Linked DNA regions of Homo sapiens: regions 2 and 3 are each linked to region 1. The links come from fine-mapping of genetic effects on gene expression. A gene starts in region 1. Each other region holds a variant in brackets. All regions are shown on one strand. Distances are from middle to middle. Region 1 holds the start of HSBP1 (heat shock factor binding protein 1). Region 2 has its middle 39 kb from the start of HSBP1. Region 3 holds the start of CEDORA (CDH13 antisense oligodendrocyte and neuron associated lncRNA).

Region 1 (5,224 bases):
GTTCCTCCAAGGCCCCGCTAGGATCATTCCATCGCTGCTCACACAAGGCAAACGCACAAAGCACCTCATTGCATGTGGTCACATGGACAGACCAACACCTTCCATAGTGTATTTTATTATTACTGTTTTTTGAGACAGAGTCACAATCTGTTGCCCAGGATGGAGTGCAGGGGATAGATCTCGGCTCACTGCAACCTCTGCCTCCCCAGGTCAAGCGATTCTCCTGGCTCAGCCTCCTGAATAGTTGGGATTACAGGTGCACGCCACCTAGCCCAGCTAATTTTTGTATTTTTAGTAGAGATGGGGTTTCGCCACACTGGCGAGGCTGGTCTTGAACTCCTGGTCTCAAGTGATCTGCCTGCCTCAGCCTCCCAAAGTGCTGGGATTACAGGCATGAGCCACCATGCCCAGCCACCTATCATAGTACAGATCCAAGAAAGGAGGCATGTCAAAAGAATGGCCCAGAGAACCAAAAAGCAATTATAAAAGTACCATAATAAGCGCACGTAAAACAAAACTGTCTTGAATGGAAAAAGGGAGTTACAACATGCAATTAATCTAGGAAGAGCTTTAAAAAAAAAATGCCAAGAGGAGGTAAGACAACTATGACACTTAAATAAAGGTTAAAAATGAGAGTTGTTCAAAACCGAAGTTTAAAGGTTAATTACTGGTGCCTTACACGTAATACATTAGTTTTGTTAATGGGACAATATTCAGTTAGGTTCGGTGTGTCAGCCCCACAAGGTGAGTATGTCAGCCATGAGTATAAATTAGTGAAGCTTCCGTGAAAAGCAGCCCTTTAACAGACCTTGGTCTCCACACAGAGAAAGCATACTGCCTGTCTGTTTAAGTGCAAAAAATAAAGGAACAAATAATGCCTCCACTAAAAGAGTATCAAGTTTGTTTGTTGTTCATGTAAAGCAAATTTCCAATTGGAATTTGAAAAAAAAAAACCACAAGTGTCTTACCAGAAAAGGAAAGAAAAACTCCAGATTCTCGTGCTAATTCATGTTCCTGAGTTGCCCACAGCCATAAGACAGGTTTGCTCAGAGATCCAGGGTGCAGGCACCCAGCTTTCTTTGCTGAGTGTGGGAGTCCCAGGGATTGGGGTCTAAAGTCAGAAGCCTGAGGGCTTTCTTCACCTTGGCTATTCACTAGTTTTTAAGGAGTTCTGAAGTTTTATGAAAAGTCTTTTACGATTAGCTGGGCATGGTGGTGCTCACCTGTAATCCCAGCTACTCAGGAGGCTGAGGCAGGAGAATCGCTTGAACCGGGGAGGCGGAGGTTGCAGTGAGTCGACATGGTGCCACTGCACTCCAGCCTAGGCAACACAGCAAGACTCCATCTCAAAAAAAAAAAAAAAAAAAAAAAAGTCTTTTAAGAAAACTGAGATACTGGCATCTAGTAGGTAGAAGTCAGAGATGCTGCCCAACGTCCTACAATATACAGGGTGCCCCCTCCACCACCAACAATAAAGAACGACTTGACTCAAATGCCAGTATTGCAGCTCTTGAGAAACTCTGCTCTAAGCTCAAAAAACTCAGAGAATTCTAGAATGGTGAGAAAAAAGGAGAAGATGCAGAGTCAGGAAGTCCTGCGTCTCTTACTTCCTTAATTTGATGACCTTGTTCCAGTTTCTTAACGCCTCTGCATCTGTTTTCTCAAAAATGTAAAATTATGATAATTATATCACAGGGTCTTCTGAGGATTAACTTAAAACACTGAGATATTTTTATTTCAAGTAGTCGGGTAAAGCACTAGCCAAATACCAGTTGACAACAGCCAATTACAAAAAAGTTGTGTATACTTACACAGAAAGGAAGATCTCTCTATAGGAAAGGATGAGGTGTGAAGGGTGAGGGGCAAAGGTGTGAGTGAGGGGGAAGGGGTGGTAAAGGGAGTTGAAGTCTCATGCCTCAAGGCCAACTGGATTCCGGGTTTGTTAGAGACACTGGTGGGTCTGGCAGAGGCGTTTGAACAAGAGCAACTCCATCTCGAATAGGAGCTGGGTAAACTGAGGCTGAGAACTACTGGGCTGCATTCCCAGACAGTTAAAGGATTCTAAGTCACAGGATGGGATAGGAGGTCAGCACAAGGTACAGGTCATAAAGACCTTGCTGATAAAACAGCTTGCGGTAAAGAAGCCGGCCAAAACCCACCAAAACCAAGATGGCAATAAGAGTGAACCCTGCTTGTCTTCATTGCTACACTCCCATTACCGCTATGACAGTTTACAAATGCCATGGCAACGTCAAGAAGTTACGCTATATAGTCTAAAAAGGGGAGGCATGAATCACCCACCCCTGGTTTAGCATATAATCAAGAAATAACTATAAAAATGAGCAACCAGCAGCCCTCAGGGCTCTGTCTATGGAGTAACCATTCTTTTATTCCTTCATTTTCTTAAACTTGCTTTCACTTTACAGACTCGCCCTGAATTCTTTCTTGCATGAGATCCAAGAACCCCCTCTCTTGGGGTCTGGATCAGGACCCTTTCCCGTAACAGCTCTAACACCTTACAGCCTCTCCCTAGCTAAAGTCAAACTGGAGCTGACCCCTCACATAGCACAGTCCTTAAATGAGATGTGTGAAAGTTTCCAGAACATGCCAGGCCCGCAGTCAAGGACTCTCCTATCCCCTTGCCATGAGACCCAATCCTAAAGACCACCTGTGGGGTTGGAACTTGAGGTTCCAAATCAGCAGTGCCCACCTCCTTCAACACCCAAACCCACAGTCTAACCCTGATGCCGGAAGCCTTCCCCACTCAACAGCAGGCATTGCGTGGAGTGAAAGAAGCCAGGCATGATGGACAGCTTCCTGTCTGAATCCCCTCATATGAACCTGACGGGCACAATGAACCTACTGGGCTAAACTCCAGACGCTGGCCACCTTCATAGGGTGGAGATGACAGAACAGGACAGGAGCCATGGGGCTCCCGGGGCGGGTAGGGGTGGGTCATGTTCCTTGGCTTGGGGGCAGTTACAAGGGTACAGTGGGGCTTGTTGAAGGGCAAAAGTTCTGTAAGTTCGTCCCGACAGGCCAAAGAAACCCCAGAGCCGTCTTTCGACTGACTACAGCCTGGAAGAGAGGCCAAGACCACTCCCTGCCTCTATTGCTCCATTTCTGAGTTGGTCTCACTTTCCACCCCACTGACGGCGCGCTGCGTGAGGGGCGGGGCATAGAGGGAGGGGAGGGGCTATGCGAAAGAAGGCGGGGAGAGTGGGGTGGGGCCGCTCCTTGGAACGGAAGCGCGCGGCCTCGAGGCCCTTCCGGTGCGGGAGAAACTACTACTCCCATAATGCCCCGCGGTCCCGCGAGCTGCCAGTCTCGTCGCGAGAAGCAGCGGCCCGGGGCGACTGAGCGGACAAACGGAAGTGTAGGTTACGGTCTGAGACATCACCGCCAAGCTGGGCATCGGGGAGATGGCCGAGACTGACCCCAAGACCGTGCAGGACCTCACCTCGGTGGTAAGGGACGGCTGTGAGGGCCGGAGGCCGCGGCCTTCCCGGGCGGCGCCGGGCCAAGCCCTGCTGGACAGAGGCGCGCCCACCGCGGCCGCGCGTGGCGTCTGCCGAGGCCCCGTTTCTGGAAGCGTCTCTGGCCGAGGCTCCCGGCCACCTTGACCCCCGGGGCGCTCGGTGCGGGCCAGTCTCCCCGCGGGCGCCCCCAAGCCCGACCCCTTCCAGTAGCCCCATTCATCTGTCGCGAACGCCCTCCGGGTCCCTCCCGCCTACCTCTGACACCCTCCCCGCCCTTCAACTCCTCACACACCCCCGGGTGCCCCAGCCCGGCAGAAACAACCTAAAGACCCTGAGCTTTGAGTCGCAGCGGCCTCCCCAGCCCAGCAGTCTAATTGGACAGGTTGGAAAACGGAAGCCCAGAGAAGGAAGATCTTGCTGAAGGCCGCACAGCTGTCCAGAGGCAGAAATGGGGCTGGAACCCCGGGACCAGGGCTTGCGTCCTGATCCCAGGAAGTTGTCTCAGGATCGATGTGGACCGTGTTTGTTTGTTTCGGTTTTTCTTAGGTGCAGACACTCCTGCAGCAGATGCAAGATAAATTTCAGACCATGTCTGACCAGATCATTGGGAGAAATATCCTTTTTATCTGCAGTCGGCCTCCTGTGGGCCTTTGGAGCCTATTTGCCGGGCAGTGGTGGGGATAAATGAGTAGTTTTCAGGCTAGCTTCAGCCATTCACTTGTAGAATTTGAGCTTGGATTGTACTGTGTTTCTGAGAAGGACTGCGCCGAGAGCTAGGGGCAAAGCTGAGTTAGACTCCTGGCTCAAGGAGCATACGTCTACCAATCCTAATAGCTGGTGTGGTGGACCATGCACTGTGAACTAAGCGCTTTTGTGTGTGTCTTTTGATGCTCAGCATGACCTTATGAGTGGGTTGTAGTGTTATCATCTTTAGCAAATGAATAAATTGAGGTTTAGGGGTTCCATCACTAGTAAGGGTCAGGGCTGGAATCCGATGCGGGGTAGCCATGCCCCACAGTCCTGTACTCTTACCCACCAGCGTGTAACAGTGTCGAAAGAAAATTGGAAGACCAGTTTCCCTAAAGTCGTTGTGTTTAAGGCTGTAGTCTGCAGGGACGGGAGGAAAAAGGCTCAATGAGATGTTGGCACGCGTTGTCTTTAACTTCAGCACTTGATGATATGAGTAGTCGCATTGATGATCTGGAAAAGAATATCGCGGACCTCATGACACAGGCTGGGGTGGAAGAACTGGAAAGTGAAAACAAGATACCTGCCACGCAAAAGAGTTGAAGGTGAGGAAGGGGGCAATTTTTTTTTTCTTTTCTTTTCTTTTTTTTTTTTTTTTTTTTTTTGACACGGAGTTTTGCTCTTGTTGCCCAGGCTGGAGTGCAATGGCACGATCTCGGCTCCCTGCAACCTTTGCCCTCCTGGGTTCAAACGATTGTCCTGCCTCAGCCTCCCGAGTAGCTGGGATTACAGGCTTGTGCCACCACACCCAGCCAATTTTGTATTTTTAGTAGAGACGGGGTTTCTCCATGTTGGTCATGCTGGTCTCGAATTCTGACCTTGAGTGATTTGCCCGCCTCAGCCTCTCAAAGTGCTGGGATTACAGGTGTGAGCCGCCGTGCCCGGTCTTTTTTTTTATTTTGTCTTAAAAGAATAGAGAGAACCTGTAAGTATAATTTGTATGTAGTCAGACATTCTGTAGATCAGTTCCCAGCCATGATCCCAGCAAGCATCACTGT
Region 2 (5,224 bases), 40 kb after region 1:
GGTGACTTTTCTTTAATGAGTTGTTTTATGCTGGTTGGTAAAATTTTATGAAGGACTTCTGCATCTATCATTACAAGTGCTATTGGTCTGTAATATTTTTGAGAAATGGGATTTTTCATGGTTCTAGGATACTCCATTTTAATAGGGTACCATAATCATCTAAGTTTCTGGGATTGAATACTAGAGAAGGGATTGCCTTAATTGTCTGTCTCTCTCTCTCTCCCTTTCACTCTCGTGTGTGAGTGCACGCGCATACACACACAAATGGGATCAAAAAATACATATATTTAAGACATAGATATATAGTGGGATTCAGATTTCTGTACCTGACCACCCACTTCCTCATATTCTGTAGAATTCATCTGGTCTCTCCCAAGGCCCCGTCTCAGGGATCATGGAACAAACTGCCTTTTGTCCCAGCTGCTGAATCAGGTCACACACAGCTGGCCGCTGGCCGTGCTCAGCCTCTCTCAGTTCCGTCTCTGCTTGCCCACCCCTCCCTGAGATGCGGTCTGGGTGTTTGGGAGACCAGGGGCCCCCATGGTACCCCTGACAGCAGAGGGAAGCACTTCTCAGGTCCAGGCGGTGACCATGATGCGGTGCCGAGAGCCCCGTGGGCCTCCATCGTGTGAACTGGGGGCTGGGGTAAGCTCCCGAGATGGGTTTGTTTGGGACCCAAGAGACCCCATGGCTGCCTCAGTCTCACCTCAGCCCTCTCCAAACTGAAGTCTCTTGTGAGTCTCCACCACGTCCTCCATTTGCTTCCCTGTCCCAGACCAGCCTATACCCAGCCTCTGCCTAAGGGTCACCTTGACCCTTTCTACCTGGGAACCAAGAGGAGACCAGTGAAGCCAGGATCAGGTACGCCGAGTAATCCCTGCCTCCTTCAGAGAAGTGTCCTCCCCTGTCCCCGAGCCCGGTGCCCAGACACTTCTGCCTGTGGCTTCCAGTTGAGTTTGGCCAATGGTCAGCACCAGCTGAAGGCAAAAAGGAGGGAGAACAGGGCCTTCGGTTCTGTCCTCATTTTCTGATTCCCCCACTGTTGGGTCCTCTCCCCAGGGCCCAGCACCTATCGGGAGCCTGTCTGCCCAGCACCACCCGCCACTCTCAGGCCTGGGAGCAGCAGTGGCTCCTGCCTTTGCTGGCCCTAGGCCCTGTGGCCCCCTGCAGCCTTCTCTTGCTCTGCCCACGCACGGTCAAGTTCCCAGTTGGTATGAGCCATCGGTTTCCTGCCAGGGGCCTGCTGGATATGCGAGGCCTCCCCTCCTAGTCTCACTCCATTACTGACTTCTCCCTGATGCTGAAGCGGTGTCCTTGTCTGGGGTAATCCCTGAGTATCCTTGCCTCATGCCAAGAAAATTAAGGACATGGACACACACAAGGAGGTTCAGGCCGGGCATGGTAGCTCACAGCTGTAATCCCAGCACTTTGGGAGGCCGAGGCAGGCGGATCACTTGAGGTCAGGAGTTTGAGACCAGCCTGGCCAACATGGTGAAACCCCAACTCTACTAAAAATACAAAAATTTGCCAGGTGTGGTGGTGCACACCTGTAATCCCAGCTACTCGGGAGGCTGAGGCACAAGAATCACTTGAACCCAGGAGGCGGAGGTTGCAGTGAGCCGAGATGGCACCGCTGCACTCCACCCTGGGCGACAGAGCGAGACTCTGTCTCAACAACAACAACAACAACAAAGAGTGGAGGTTTAATAGGCAAAAGAAAGAGAAAGGAGAACAGCTCTCTCCCTTGCAAAAGAGAAGGGCACCAGAATGGGACTTCTGGCCTGCAGCAGAATGCAGCAGATTTTATAGACAGGCTTGAGGAGGGGGTGTCTGATTTACAGAGGGCCCACAGATTGGTTGGACCAGGTGTGATGTTTACACAGCATTTGGGGAAGCTGCCCATCCCACTCTAATCTTATTAAGCAAATTGGCTTTCCACTTGGTGGGTGCCATATTGTCTGCTCCTTACTGTACACTTGGCTGGCAAAGGGAAGGGAAGACGGAGCCGCCATGTTGGACATGCGTAGACCCAGGTAACCCCTTTCCTACTGGCACAGCTACCGGCATGCACCATGCCAGGTTCTAGCCTGCCTTTCTATGTGTGCAGCTCGATTTTATAAGCTGCTGTTTGTTAGAAAAGAAATGATTTGGGGGCTGCTGCTTTTAATTAAAAGAAAAACCTTACTAAGGACATCCTTACCCTTCCTTAGTATCTGCCTAAATAATTTTTTTTTTTTTTTTTTTTTTTGGTGGAATCTCACTCTGTCACCCAGGCTGGAATGCAGTGGCATGATCTCAACTCACTGCAACTTCCACCTCCCCAGTTCAAGCAATTCTCCTGCCTCTGCCTCCCGAATAGCTGGGATTACATGTGCCCGCCACCACACCCGGCTAATTTTTGTATTTTTAGTAGAGACAGGGTTTCACTACGTTGACCGGGCTGGTCTCGAACTCCTGACCTCAAGTGATCCGCCCACCTCCGCCTCCCAAAATTCTGGGATTATGGGTGTGAGCCACCGTGCCCAGCCAATAATTTCTTCTTAAATTCCGTATCAGTGCAGTCAGGATAGCAGAGAACTAAACAGGAACCAGAAAAGAAGCCCTCCCCCTCAGGCTCCCTCCCAACTCCCTACCAGGGGTCTTCTCCAAGAGACCTAGCAAGACCCACACATCCACTCTTCCCCTCTGCTCCCTCCAGGTCTGTTCACCCCACAAACTTTGGGAGCCATGAGCAGAGGGCTTCCCCAGGCTGCAGTTAATCTATGAGCATCTTGGTGCAATTTAGAAACAGGCACCTCCTTCCTCAGGACACTTTACTTCTATCTGGAAGAAAAATTGCTCTATTTATTTTGTATCTAGAAAACTGTCAGGACAAATCTATAAATCTACAGTGTCTCTGCCATGAATGAAAGGTGCCCCTTACATGAGATCCTTGCACAGTGTGCAACCTGTATGCCCGGGCCCTGCCTTCCTGGCTTTTCTTTGTCTAATATGTTTGTGTTCCTCCCAGCTCTACTCTCATGACTGAGAACTAAGCATTTCTGCATCTTGGGAGGATCTCTAAGGTCAAGTGGTGAAAAACAACATCTTACTAGAGAGATCAAGTACCCACTCTGTCCCAA[G/A]GGTGACACCTTCCCGGTTTAGCCTGAGGAGGTAGACTGCTTCATGGAGGACCTGTTAAAAAGGGGAAGTTAAAATGTCGCAACTTAAATATTGGCAAATATATTTTGTCTTTTACATATGCTAGAGACTTTACTCATCTCAATCCTCACGTGCTTCATTTCGTTTTACAGATGTAGAAATTGAGCTACCCCATGGCTCAGCAGCTCCTCCTAATGTACCTTGTGAAATGCTATAGGGTGAGGCTCTTCCCACCTCCAAATCCACTAACTGCTCAGTAAATGGGAAAACAAGAATTCAGAGAGCACAGGGGATCTGTCTATTAGGACTCATTGTCCTCCACCCTGCTTTTTTTTTTTTTTTTTAATGTGGCCCTGTGGCATTTTTGGCCATCTGCATGTCTGGGCTTGCGAGAGATTGGATGCCAGTTTTCACTTAAGGAAAATTTTTACACTGTAGTCAAAAGCCATTTAAGAAATAAACGCTGGGAAGATGATAATGGAAGTGCTGGTAACCTTTAATGACGGTGGCGCTTGCAAAACGTAGAGTTCAGGAAGGGCTGATGCTTGATCCAAAAAGCTCTTGTTAAAATCCAATCTTCTTCCGCAATGAGCATTAGCAGGAAATGCTTGCAATGAACAAAAACACAGGAAAGGTTAATGGCCTCCTTTGCTATAACGATTCAGGGTTTTATCTCACGTTCCAGCTCATCCTCGGATCATGCATACGTTGAAGGGTCTTTTTTTTTTTTCTTTTTGGTAATCAGGAGAAAAATTGATTACCAAAATTATAATTAAGAGCTGGGAAAATATGCAACAATTTGGCTGCTTCATTTAGCACATATTTCAGGTTAATTGCATGATTTTACTAATGAAGATATTTGCATGAATATTTTCAGTGGCTACATTCAATTTATCATGCAATGAATACTCTGCTGAGCAGATGAGTTTCCTTTTTGTTGGACTTAGAACATAGGCCACAACCCTCAGTGAGATGTGCAAGGAGACCGTTCTAGGCTTATGTGTCAGCCTCTCACTTAGTAATCTGGTGTACCTCCCTGGTAGAATTTACACTATCCACTGTACAACCAGATCCTTTCCTAATTTTGAAAAAGACTGGAAGTTTCCAAAGAAAGTGGAAAAACAACCTTTATTACCCCTTTAAAAAAAAAAAAAAGTTTGTTAAAGGCCAGGCCCAGTGGCTCACGCCAGTAATCCCAGCATTTTGGGAGGCTGAGGCAGAAGGCTAACTTGAGCCCAGGAGTTCAAAACCAGCCAAAAATGGGTAATGTAGACCCTATTTCAAAGAAAAGATAACCACTGTTAAGGTTTATGGACATTCTATTTAAGTATTTCTTCTTTGGTAAGAAATTTCTTGTTTCTTACCAAAATGAATTATACTATACATACGGTTTTGTATTTAATCTCCCTTTTTACTGAACAATATAAATTGTGAACACTCTCTTAATTAGTAAACATTTTTCTATCATTGTGTAAATGTACAAAGTGTTTCATTGTGTGGAAGGGTCACCATTTATTTAAGTGATCCCCTTTTATTGGACCTTTAGGTTGAACTCAATTGTTCACTATTATAAGTAGCAGACAGTGAACATTCGTGAAGCTCTTTGAACACATCTAGAATTATTTCCTAAAGGTACATTTGTAGAGACTAAATGATTGGAAAGCCCTGATAGAGACTGCCAAATCTGACCCCCTAGGAAGATACACATTTGAAATCCCACCAGCAGGTTGGGATAAGGCTTGTTTCCCTGCAGTCTCACCAACATTGGGGACCAACGCCATCCTTTCAAATGAGACCTAAAAACTGATCTCTTTGTTGACTTCGTTTGCATTTCTTTAGTTCCTACTGGAACGAGTGACTATTTATGGGCCATTTATGGTTCTTTGTAAACTGCTAGCTCAAGTGTTTTGCCCATTTTTTAAAAGTGGGGTTAATTTTGTTTTTGCTGCTTTGTAATTTTTTGGGGGGTCTTAAGAATATGGCCATTAAACTGCTATATATGGTACAAATATTTTTCCATTAATTGTAATATTTTTGTATTTGTGCAACAGCCAGCTTAGCTGCAACTCCCTGGTGAGTCCAG
Region 3 (5,224 bases), 36 kb before region 1:
ATTTTACCCAGCTCCTATTCAAGATGGAGTTGCTCTGGTTCAAACACCTTGACCACAGGGTCACAGAACGAGAAGATGGGAGGGAACCTCAAAGCCATTTCCCCAAGGAAGTTGAGGCTTGGGTTTTTGAGGGCTTTGGAGTGGGCAGAAGTGTGGAGATCAAGAGTACAGGGTGAAGTCATAGGAAGGGGAGAGGAAGCAGCTGTGTTCTCATGCTGATCCTGTTCCCCTGTGGGAGACTTCCAACTGGTGGCTGGAATTCTGGGGAGGTGTGTCTGAAAAACATCTTAAGTGTCTATAGGAACAATGGGGATGCAAATCAATTCTTAAACAGTCTTCTGGCCTTAATGTCAGAGATCCTATCTAGGGGAACGGTGGGGAAGCAAATGTCAGGATCTAGTGCTACTGTAACTGAGGAACTGGTTAGCCACTCACTGCAGCAGAGTCCAATTAACAAGATCCAGGCCTGGTACAAGAAAAGTGAATTTATTTTTGAAGCTAGCTTGGAAAGACACAAAGTGTCCTGCTTTAAGTGTGCTGCTTCATCTTTGGAGCAAAAAGCAGACATGTTTATAAGGTTAAAGGGGAAGTGAGCAAGGGCAGGAAGTCCCCCTGCTAGCCTGGTGTCTTATCTACCAAACAGCTGAGTTGGCATACAGTTGAGTTGGTGCCTTCCTGGGCAGAAATAAGTTGTAAAAGTGGCCAAGTGGGCGTGTTTTCACCATGTCCTCCTGAGGCCACCCCAGAAGTGGGAGTTCCGTGGAGATGTGCTTTGATCTGCAAATTGACTGTCAATTCTGGAGAAGAGATCACTGGGGCACGTAGATGACCTTGCCTTGTAGGGAATGTGTGGTGAGGGGGAGGTGAGAGGTTATTTTGCATTTCAAAAAGGGCTAGGTAGGAAGCAGGCTGAAAGGGGAAAGGAGAAGAGAAGAGAAAAAAGTAATTAAACCACCTCAGAAAAATCAGGGTACTTGGTTACGGTACATGACCTACTGCAACAAGGAACTGGGCCAGGGTGCAGCCTGATTAACGCTGAATTATAACTGTATTTGTACCCAGAACCTGGCATGCAATTCCCGTCAACCCTGTGGGGATGGTTTCAAAACCTGACCCTGTTTCTCATTGCATCCACACCCACAGCGTCAAAGCAATGCCAGGAGAACCACGCGTGGCTCATGTTTCTTGGAGGAGTCCTGGTTCAGTTCTACAGGCTTCCCACACAAAGCAATATACTGTTGGCCATGTAGGTAAGAAAAGCACAGGAAACTGTTTTTTACCCTTTCTACCAGTGTTTAGTACCAACCACAAGCACCAAAATACTCAAACTTCGAGCTCTGTGGCTCTGGCTCTTATGGACGGGGAAGTGCTTTACAATTGCCAGGCATTCCATTCACTTTATAGAATAGCCAGAAAGCTCCAGGGATGGGGATGCCCTGCCAGGGGGCCACAGCTCTTAAACAGGTGACATGCTTGTGACTGGAAAGAGGTCCCGATCCAGACTCCAAGAGAGAGTTCTTAGATCTCACGCAAGAAAGAATTCAGTGCGAGTCCATTAAGTGAAAGCAAGTATATTAGGAATGTAAAGGAATAAAAGAATGGCTACTCCCCGTAGACAGAGCAGCCCCAAAGGCTGCTGGTTGCCCATTTTTGAGGTTATTTATTGATGATATGCTAAACAAGGGGTGGATTATTCATGCCTCCCCTTTTTAGATCATAGAGAGTAACCTCCTGATGTTGCCATGGCATTTGTAAACTGTCATGGTGCTGGTGGGAGTGCAGTAGTGAGGACCACGAGAGGTCACCCTTGTCACCATGTTGATTTTGGTGGGTTTTGGCCAGCTTCTGTACTGCAACCTGTTTTATCAGAAAGGTCTTTATGTCCTGTATCTTATGCTGACCTCCTATCTCATCCTGTGACTTAGAATGCCTTAACCACCTGGGAAGGCAGCCCAGTAGATCTCTGCCTCATTTTACCCAGCACCTATTCAAGATGGAGTTGCTCTGATTTCAATGCCTCTGACACACTAATGTTAGAGCACCTTGGACATTTTCCTTAATCTGAGTGTCTAGTTTTCTTTTCTAGAAAATGAGAAAAAACTAGAATGTAGACCCCCATGTGCTCAAAGCAACAGCCTGCCTGGTTTGCTTGGACTTTTCCTAGACTGTATGATAACAGGTGCTCGATTCCTCTACGTAAATCTTCACCTTTTATTAATCATATTACCCTGCTTCTCTTAGAAAACGCACAGTTCTGCCCTCCCTACACCAAGATCACAAAAGGCTAAGTGTAAGTCATGAGCCAACCAGACCAAGAGTAACCCAGGCAGGCCAGGTGGCCAACTTGGCCATCTCATAGGCAGTTATCACTGCTCAACTTGAAGAAATACAAGGTTAATTATTGGAGTTTGAAATCCAGCAGTGGAATCCATGTGGTCCTATCGTGGTCATATAATGTGCTGAGGCTCTTACAAGTTGTCAGTGCTGAGTGGGAA[C/T]GACAAAGCCAGAAACAAGGGCAAGCAGAGGTTGAATGCCAGGAAGACCGTGGCAGGGTGCCAAGTCCATGAAGCAAAAGCACCGCCATGGTCTAAAAGGCATAGTCCTCTAGAGCAACAGAGCCAGTAACTCAGATCCAAAGGAAAGAAAATGATAACCCTTTCCCCCTCAAGACTTGCCATTGTATGGCAGCAGGAGGGCTGCTTGCAAAATAAATAACCCACCAACATTTGTAGGTTGGAGATCTCTCAGTCAAGAGTGACAGGCTGTCACTGAAAATGGGTCGGAAGGAAAACTGTCATTCCTACTAAGCAATTTTAAATAGGCTTTGTTTCCAGATATCTGTGCCTACAAGTCCTCATTTCCTCATTTGGAAATGGGATTTGATATGGTTGTATTAGGAGGTAAAATTAAAAATATCTCCTTACATCCCATTCACACTGCTGCATGATGGAATTGCCAACCTTGTAACCAAAACACATGTCTTTCTAATAAGAAGTCAATGACACAAGAGAAAAGAGATTCCTGCAGCTAAGGTTTGCTCCTGGTATTTTCCCCATGATATCACCCAACACAATGTACACTCTGTGGGTGGAGAAGGATGGGGGGTGACTTTTTAGCTTGTATACTTATTTGAGAACCTTAAATGAGATGCCTATTAAACTATCCATGTATACAAATAGACTCAATATTAAGAAAAGAAGTAGTATAAGACTGAAAGACATGCTTAAGAGAAAGGAGGGAGCCATACTTCAGGAATGGAGAAATGAAGAAAAATCTATACTGGCTAAAGTCAGGTTAGCTAGGAGGGAACATATGAGGAAGGCCCAAGTCTTATGCTGCTAGAAGCCAGGGCAGAGGCAGTAGGCTGGAAAGGACCAGTGGTCATCTTGGAAATATGTGCTCCACTTGAAGCCATTTGGATAAAAAATAAGAATTCTTAGAACACTGGACATCCCAGAAACACGATAAATTAGCAGACCAAATGCCAGTCTGCAACTGCTGGTTAAAAAGAAAAATCCAATTACTTATAACACTGAATATAGGTCAGCAGAAACTCCCGGCATCAAAGAAACTCTGACCATAAAGACTTAGTGTATATTTTTACAAAACACTTCACAGGGCCTTGTGGATCAATCATGGATTCAATTTTGTTCTACAAATTAAAATCAAGCCATGTTTAAAGCAATCTCATTAAGTCGCTTGCCAACGGGTGCACACAGTACCACACTCCTGGTGTGACATGACCATTCTTATCATTCATTTTTGGAACCCTCCTTTCATGGATACACCACCCCTCACCTCACTTCCCTGCTTCTGCCTTACCTGTGCTTTCCCTGTGGCTTACCTGGATTATCACAACCAGATCCCCTGCAGTTTTCAGCCTTGCCAACATCTGAACATGTCAAAGAAAAATGGGCAGGACAGAGTTTGAAAGGCAAAGCCTTTATTCAAGGCTACAATAAGGGAGAGAGATTGAACTAACTCTGCTGAAACAAACAATGGGACGATTTTTAAGAGCTGGGATGAGCTAATGGAAAAGTACTGGAAGATGTTTGTGGGGAGGTTGGTCCATGTGATTAGGCATCTGTGTTTGCTAATGGGTGTTTACTGGAGTTAGGCTCCAACCCTTCCACAGAGACTGAGAGACAGAGACACTATTCCTTTCCATGATTACATTTCAAAGAGATGTCAGGTCCTTGAGAAAAGTGGTCCTGGGTTGCAAAACTAGCAACAGGTTGGAAGATTTACATCTCACAGGGACAGAGAAAGAATTTACAATTGCAAGTTTCTAAAGTAAATGCTTCAAGAAAAGAGAAGTCAAGGCCTATATTAGTCCATTCTCATACTACTGTATAGCTACTACTCGATACTGGGTAATTTATAAAGGAAAGAGGTTTAATTGGCTCATAGTTCCACATGGCTGGGGAGGCCTCAGGAAACTTACAATCATGGTGGAAGGCAAATGGGAAGCAAGGACCTTCTTCACATGGTGTCAGGAGAGAGAAGTGCTAGCAGGTTAAATGCCAGACACTTATAAAACCATCCGATCTCATGAGAACTCACTCACTATCAAGAGAACAGCATGGGGGAAACCACCCCCATGATCCAATCATCTCCCTCCCTCAATATGTGGGGATTACAATTGGAGATGAGATTTGGGTGGAGACACAAAGCCAAACCATATCAGGGCTCTAGAGTCTGAAAGAAGCCCATCTAAAGTGTAGTCCAGCACAGGGGAAGGTTATGGCCCTCTTGGTCAAGCCTATCTATCCTTAGGAGGTAAGGAAGTTCTTCTAGCCTTGCCTCAAACCCAGGGTGAGCATTAGTATATGGTGATTCTCCTGGTGGCTGAGCCACAGGCTCCAACACTGTTCCCCAGTCATGAGGCTCTAAACCACTACCCCACAGAGGCCCATTTCTATAATAAGGTCCTGCTCCCAAGCTTCCTCCTTTCTCTCCATCCTTATCCCTCCCCCTTCCCTGCCTGGCATGGTCTTGTAGCTGGAAGACGAGGCCTCAGCTCTGGGGTCTCATTTCTGCTTCACAAACCTCCATCAGCACAGACTGTCCCCATGTGGAGCCCAGCCCCCTGCTGTTATCTCTGAAAAAGATCTACTCAACTCTATAATCATTTTCGGCTACTGAGCTATTCGTCCTACAGAAATAGTAAATGCTATTTTACTGTGCATGGCCGGTGATACCAGCAAGCCTAGGACATTGGTCC

Evidence for each region. PIP is the estimated chance that this variant, and not a neighbour inherited with it, causes the effect.
Region 2: its variant is the best candidate, but not a certain one, in a credible set for the expression of HSBP1 in whole blood (TOPMed, PIP 0.51).
Region 3: its variant is the best candidate, but not a certain one, in a credible set for the expression of HSBP1 in whole blood (TOPMed, PIP 0.83).

Annotation. Positions count from the first base shown.
Region 1 is chr16:83,804,655-83,809,878 of GRCh38, forward strand. It overlaps HSBP1 (heat shock factor binding protein 1), which reads left to right and starts at 3,324. Exons shown (of 4, transcript NM_001537.4): 1 at 3,324-3,467; 2 at 4,026-4,092; 3 at 4,651-4,771. The coding sequence starts at 3,423. The coding sequence ends at 4,769. RefSeq lists an enhancer at 3,118-3,619 and silencers at 3,277-3,453, 3,471-3,760.
Region 2 is chr16:83,844,304-83,849,527 of GRCh38, forward strand. No RefSeq gene overlaps it. Among named protein-coding and RNA genes, the nearest start is that of HSBP1, 39 kb to the left of the region's middle. RefSeq lists enhancers at 1,989-2,490, 2,491-2,990. The variant G/A (reference allele first, on the strand shown) is at 3,123.
Region 3 is chr16:83,768,965-83,774,188 of GRCh38, forward strand. The region is part of intron 11 of CDH13 (cadherin 13); the gene reads left to right. CEDORA (CDH13 antisense oligodendrocyte and neuron associated lncRNA) reads right to left here and starts at 3,985. Exons shown (of 4, transcript NR_188499.1): 1 at 3,845-3,985. RefSeq lists an enhancer at 509-648. The variant C/T (reference allele first, on the strand shown) is at 2,496.